Linked DNA regions of Homo sapiens: region 2 is linked to region 1. The links come from fine-mapping of genetic effects on gene expression. A gene starts in region 1. The other region holds a variant in brackets. All regions are shown on one strand. Distances are from middle to middle. Region 1 holds the start of CWC15 (CWC15 spliceosome associated protein). Region 2 has its middle 7.3 kb from the start of KDM4E.

Evidence for each region. PIP is the estimated chance that this variant, and not a neighbour inherited with it, causes the effect.
Region 2: its variant is the best candidate, but not a certain one, in a credible set for the expression of CWC15 in aorta (GTEx, PIP 0.62).

What each region holds. Positions count from the first base shown.
Region 1 is chr11:94,972,235-94,974,734 of GRCh38, forward strand. It overlaps CWC15 (CWC15 spliceosome associated protein), which reads right to left and starts at 1,322. Exons shown (of 7, transcript NM_016403.4): 1 at 1,264-1,322. KDM4D (lysine demethylase 4D) reads left to right here and starts at 1,475. Exons shown (of 3, transcript NM_018039.3): 1 at 1,475-1,834. RefSeq lists enhancers at 599-1,374, 1,089-1,258, 1,579-1,728.
Region 2 is chr11:95,016,425-95,019,456 of GRCh38, forward strand. No RefSeq gene overlaps it. Among named protein-coding and RNA genes, the nearest start is that of KDM4E, 7.3 kb to the right of the region's middle. The variant T/G (reference allele first, on the strand shown) is at 1,683.

The DNA of each region.
Region 1 (2,500 bases):
ACACTCATTTTATAGAGTATTAATCAATATCCATACTGGTAAAATAAGTTCTAAAACTCATTCCCCAAAACCTGCTTAATCTTCTTAAACAAAAGTTTTCAAGAAAACAAATTATGAGGCTTAGGCTGTACAAGGAATATGGCTTCTCAGGCTTGCCTTAGTACAAAAAATTCTGTCATGAAGATCTGAGTTTGCATCCCTATTCTCCTTCTGACTATATGGGCTTGAGCAAGTCACCTGGCTTAACTTTGTCATCTGTGGAATGGAGATATTCCTCATAGATTATAAGAATTATGACACTTGACATGTCAAAACCCTAGTAAAATACAGTACTGCCATGACTGAGTTTTAAAAATTTCCAACTCAACCTTACTCTACCAGACTCTGTAAGGTTTGCATTTTATCTAAACTTCACACAATAGCAAATAGGCTAGTAGAAACAAAAGCTAAAAACAAACAAAAAATATCACTGACAAAGTTACTAAATGTCCCAGAGAAAAGTGTGTTAAACTTCAATGACAGTTACACAGAAAAAAATTCTTAAACAACCGTTTGTTGAGCCAATTTTCTCCTACAACAGGCATCATACTATAAATTAGATCGTTTGTGGGTTATAATTTAAGGCCTGTTCAAAAAAAACAGGAACCTCACCCCCAGAGGATTCTGATGCCAAAAATCAGGGACTCATTCCTCAAGTTACTTTCTGCTTGGAGCAGTCACAAGAATACTGTGCAGCAGATGCAGTCACTAAAACCCTGTTAGTGTCGGAAAAGCAAGTGTGTGGGGAGGGTGGGCGAATTGGGAGGATTTTTTGGGGGGGGGGCGATGCTAATTCTCTCAACTTTCAAAAAGGGTAGAGACATGTATACAAAGAAGAAAACAGGGTTATCTGGCGCTGGGGGCGCCGCCCCTTCCCACACACCCACGGAATTATCACTCCGGCCTCCCGTGAGCTAGTCTTTGGCTATAACCAGAAACTCGCTGCCTCTTCACCCGTGCCCAGCACTGCAGGGGTGCGAAGGGTAGTGAAGGGAGGACCTGGGGTTCGCTTTACGCAGTAGGCGAGCTGCCTGTACGCTGCGATCTCCTCGGCGGGCCCAAGAGCTCCAGACGCGCCTGACAGGCACTCGGTTCCGCCCCTAGCCCGCTGCTCCAGGGCCTCCACCGCCCGCGCTCTGCACTCTGCCGCCGACTCCGACCCCAACTGCCCTTTCCCGTCCCATCGCGATAAGAAAGATAATCTCCTATCCTCTTGCCGCTCACACTGGCCGAGGTCCGATGCAGCAGGCTCCGAAGATCATACAGACGCCATTACCACTCTTGGCTCCCAGAAACCTCTGCGCCCAGAGCTAGCGCCTACGACCCGGAAGCAAAATCCAAGCGCTTCGGGGGCGGAAGCAACGACCAATCCGCAGTGGCCGAAGTGGAAGTCGGCGTAACGGCACTAAGGGGCGGGGCCGAAGCGGCCCAGGGGGCGGGCGTTTGAAATCAGTGCCTTAGAGTAGACCCTAAACCTCATTTTATACCTTCAAGAACCAATTACTTAATGTCTCTTCCGTCTTTTCCGTCCCCGACCCCCTCCCAGACTCCTTCATTCCGGTACTGCGTGGACGGAAAGCCCCGGGTAGCCGACACCACGTCCCCGGCTAGCGGGAGAGAGCGTGGAAAAGGATTACACCAAACTGTTTAAATCCAACGACTCCTGCTTCCATCCTTTCTCCTGAGCTAGAACCAACAAACCTAGAGAGTTGGGCTTCGGAAAAACTAGTGTTTTCATTTAATTGGATATGAAGAAAGAACAAATATGTACGGGGCAACCACGATCTTTACAAAGGTACCATTCCTGCAAAAATATTAACACTTCAAAGCAAAGGTTGTATTCGTAATGTTTGCTAAAATTTCTTATTTAAAAAACGTTAGTTTTAGTGGGAGGGGAGATGTCAGTATTTACGAGAGCGTTTACAATGGTGGGCCCAACTACCAGGAGCACAAGATGTAATTATTAAGATGGCTACTTAAGTGTTAAGTTTTAATAAGACAACGAAAAGTAGAAAACCCGAAAACCAAAAACCTACCAGTCGTCTCTCCTCCCTTCCATAAAAACAAATTCTGAGAATAGAGATCTTGGTTGTTTAGCTCATCTTGGTATCTCATCACATAGACCTTGACGTATAGTAGCTGCTCAATTAATATTTGTTAAACAAATGAAAATTCAACTTCCCCAACTTAGTTTAAAATGTAAGGAACTCACAAAATTGAATATTTAAATGCTTTCTTACCCCTAAATTCTTTGCAACTTTTTAATGAAGAAAGAAAAGCAGAAAAAGCCCTTTCAGTCATAGAGTTCAAGATGAAAATCCTGATTTTTCTTACCGAAGGTATCCCTCCTCCAGTCTTAACAAGTCTCACTAAAAGACGCGATCATCATGCTAGTTACTCAAACCAAAATCCCGGAGTGCCTACTTAAATTCCTTTTCATTCACTCTTCACATACGGTTCA
Region 2 (3,032 bases), 44 kb after region 1:
CACCAAACAAGAAACCTTTTTGGGATCAAACTGACAAAATTGGGAGGTCCAGGGTAGAGTTTCCCACCTTCAGGGAACAGCAAGTGCAACAGACCTACCATGGAACTTAGTGATTTTGTTTTTCCAGGAATACAAAGAAGCTCATTTGTGCCTGGGGCATAGACAGGGGCATAGACAGAAAGAGGGAGAGAGGGAGAGAGACAGGGGGCAAAGCATGTAGGGCCCTGAGTCTCATGTGAAGTACATTATTTGGTGTGTGTTCAACTTGAAATGAGAAGGCACTGGAAGTTTTAAACAGCAGTTGACGAAATGTGATTTATACATTTAAATAATCAGCTTGGTTGCTCTGTGGAGAGTGTGTAAGCAGAAGAAGCAGTTACACCATCTAAATAACACAAGTGAGAGTGACAGTTGCTTAGATTTATGTTAACATTGAAAATGCACAGCAGTGGCCAGGCGCAGTGGCTCATGCCTGTAATCCCAGCACTTTGGGAGGCTAAGGTGGGCAGATAACTTGAGGTCAGGAGTTTGAGACCAGCCTGATCAACATGGTGAAACCCTATCTCCACTAAAAATACAAAAATTAGCTGGGCATTGTGGTGCACGCTTGTAGTCCCAGCTACTTGGGAGGCTGAGGCAGAAGAATTGCTTGAACCTAGAAGGCAGAGGTTGCAGTGAGCTGAGATCACACCACTGCACTCCAGCCTGGGCGACAGAGCACGACTCTGTCTTAGGAAAAAAAAAAAAAAAAGAAGATAATGCACAGAAATGGACAAACTCACATATATTTTGTAAATTAAAATTATAGCAAGCCACCCCTCCCCTTAATACTAGCCTTCCTTAATTGCCCCCACAGAATTTTAGTAAGGCTCTCAATTTTAATTAATTTAATCCATTTAGAATTTTTTTTTTAGACAGTCTCGCTCTGTCACCCAGGCTGGGGTGCAATGGCACAATCTCAGCTCACTGCAACCTCTTCCAGTGTTTCTCTTGCCTCAGCCTCAGCCTCCTGAGTAGCTGGGATTACAGGCATGTGCCACCATGCCCGGCTAATTTTTGTATATTTATTAGAGATGTGGTTTCACCATATTGGCCAGGCTGGCCTCGAACTCCTGACCTCAAGTCATTCCAATCTCTGGAGGCCGATATCTCGTCCTCCCAAAGTGCTAGGATTACAGGCATGAGCCACCTCGCCCAGCCTAATTGTGCCTGGCCTAATTCATTTAGAATTCTTATGAAAAAGAATTTTGTCACTTCTCAGCTATTTGTTAATTTATTTAATTTTTAATTTACATCAGTACGAACTCATATTTATTTCATGCTTGGATTATAATTCAATTTATATATTTTCTTGCTCGGCTTGGAGATTTGGCTGTTGGAAGTTGTTTTCCTTGTGCCCCTCAAAGTAACCCCATTTTTGACTGTGTGTATTTACCAAGTTTTTATTTTTCACTACTGCTAATGCTTTGGGCTTTGTCTGTATATCACTTGCCTAGGCCTAGCAAGTGCTTTGTTATCAATACTGCTACTTATTTTTTATTTAAAAGTATCATATTTTAGTTTTATTAATCATTTCTATTTCAGTATACATTTTCCCTTTTGCTTATTTATCCATGATCATTTTTATATTTCATTCTCTTTTGCATATTTTTGTTTTGTTTCATTTTTACTCGCTGCTTGAG[T/G]GCAACCTGAAGATCAATAAGATTTTAGAAATGTGAATATAAATTTTCAAATAAATATGGTTGGATTCAGCTTTTGTATTGTTGACTTTCAATTTCATTTCATTTTGGTCAAGATTGTTTTCTGTATATGCATTCTATGGGATTTTAATTTGATATTTACTTTGTAGTCCTGTATTGGTAAATTTATCTATTATAAATGTTTCTTGTGTACTGAGAAGCATTTTCCATTTGCTTTTTAATTGTTGCAATTTTGTTCCTCAAAGTTCTTAAGCTTGTACATATTATTATAATATTATTAATTTTCTACTCTGCTCTATTGGTTTCTGAAAGAATAATGCTAAAAAAATTAAAAACTACATCACAATTGCATATTTTACTGTCTGACTTTACAACAACTCTCAGTCCTGGCTTTCCATGTGTCAGTGCTATGCGTAGGGTCATAAAGTTCATCACTGTATTATTCTGGTGAATTTTTCTATTCAATAACTGTAAAATGTGCCTTTTTAATTCTATAACTACATTGGATATTAACATAGCTGCTTTAGTTTTCTTTTGTTTGGTATTTGTCAGGGTTGCCTTTTTCCATTCCTTGATTTTTAACTACTTAGCTTCGTTTTCAGATTGGTTTAAAATGCAAAATGAAAGGGAGGGGCTTGGACGGGTGGGATGCCTAATCTGGACCAAGCCCAGTGATTACATTAGCTGGGCCCTGATTGGGTTAGGGTGTTGCCCAGGTATAAAGCCAGGGTCTTTGGAACGTGGGGCTTTATTTGGAGTTTAGCTACCAACAGGAAACCTTCTCTTTGGGTCCTGAAGTATTTTCATATGGAATTGTGAGTTTTTGACCGAAGGTAGGTCGTTTTATTTCTCTGTCGGAGCACTTTTGGATATTTGTCCTACTGAGAACCTTATTATCATCAATTTGTTCTAAGATTTTGTTAAATATTGTAAAACATCTCCACCAGATTTTTAGCTATGCTGCTTGTTTCTTACCTCAATGTGTTTTTGTTTGTACTTTCATTTATCTTCATGCCGATGGCTTTTTACTTCTCATCATATTTTTTGAAAACTCAGTTTTCATTCTTTGTCATTCCTGTTGGGTGTTCTGTTTCCTTTTGCAATGGTTTCTTCTTATGAATTTATTTTCATTGTTTCTATTGATGTTAATGCATCCAGTTTCTTGAATGGAGTGCTCAATTTATTCATTTTCAAACTTGATCATTTTTCATTTTAGTTTGATGCTGCTCTTTTTCTGTTTTATGATTTGACCTGATGTTTGTCTCATGTGACCGTGTGAAGAGACCCCCAAACAGGCTTTGTGTGAGCAACAAGGCTGTTTATTTCACCTGG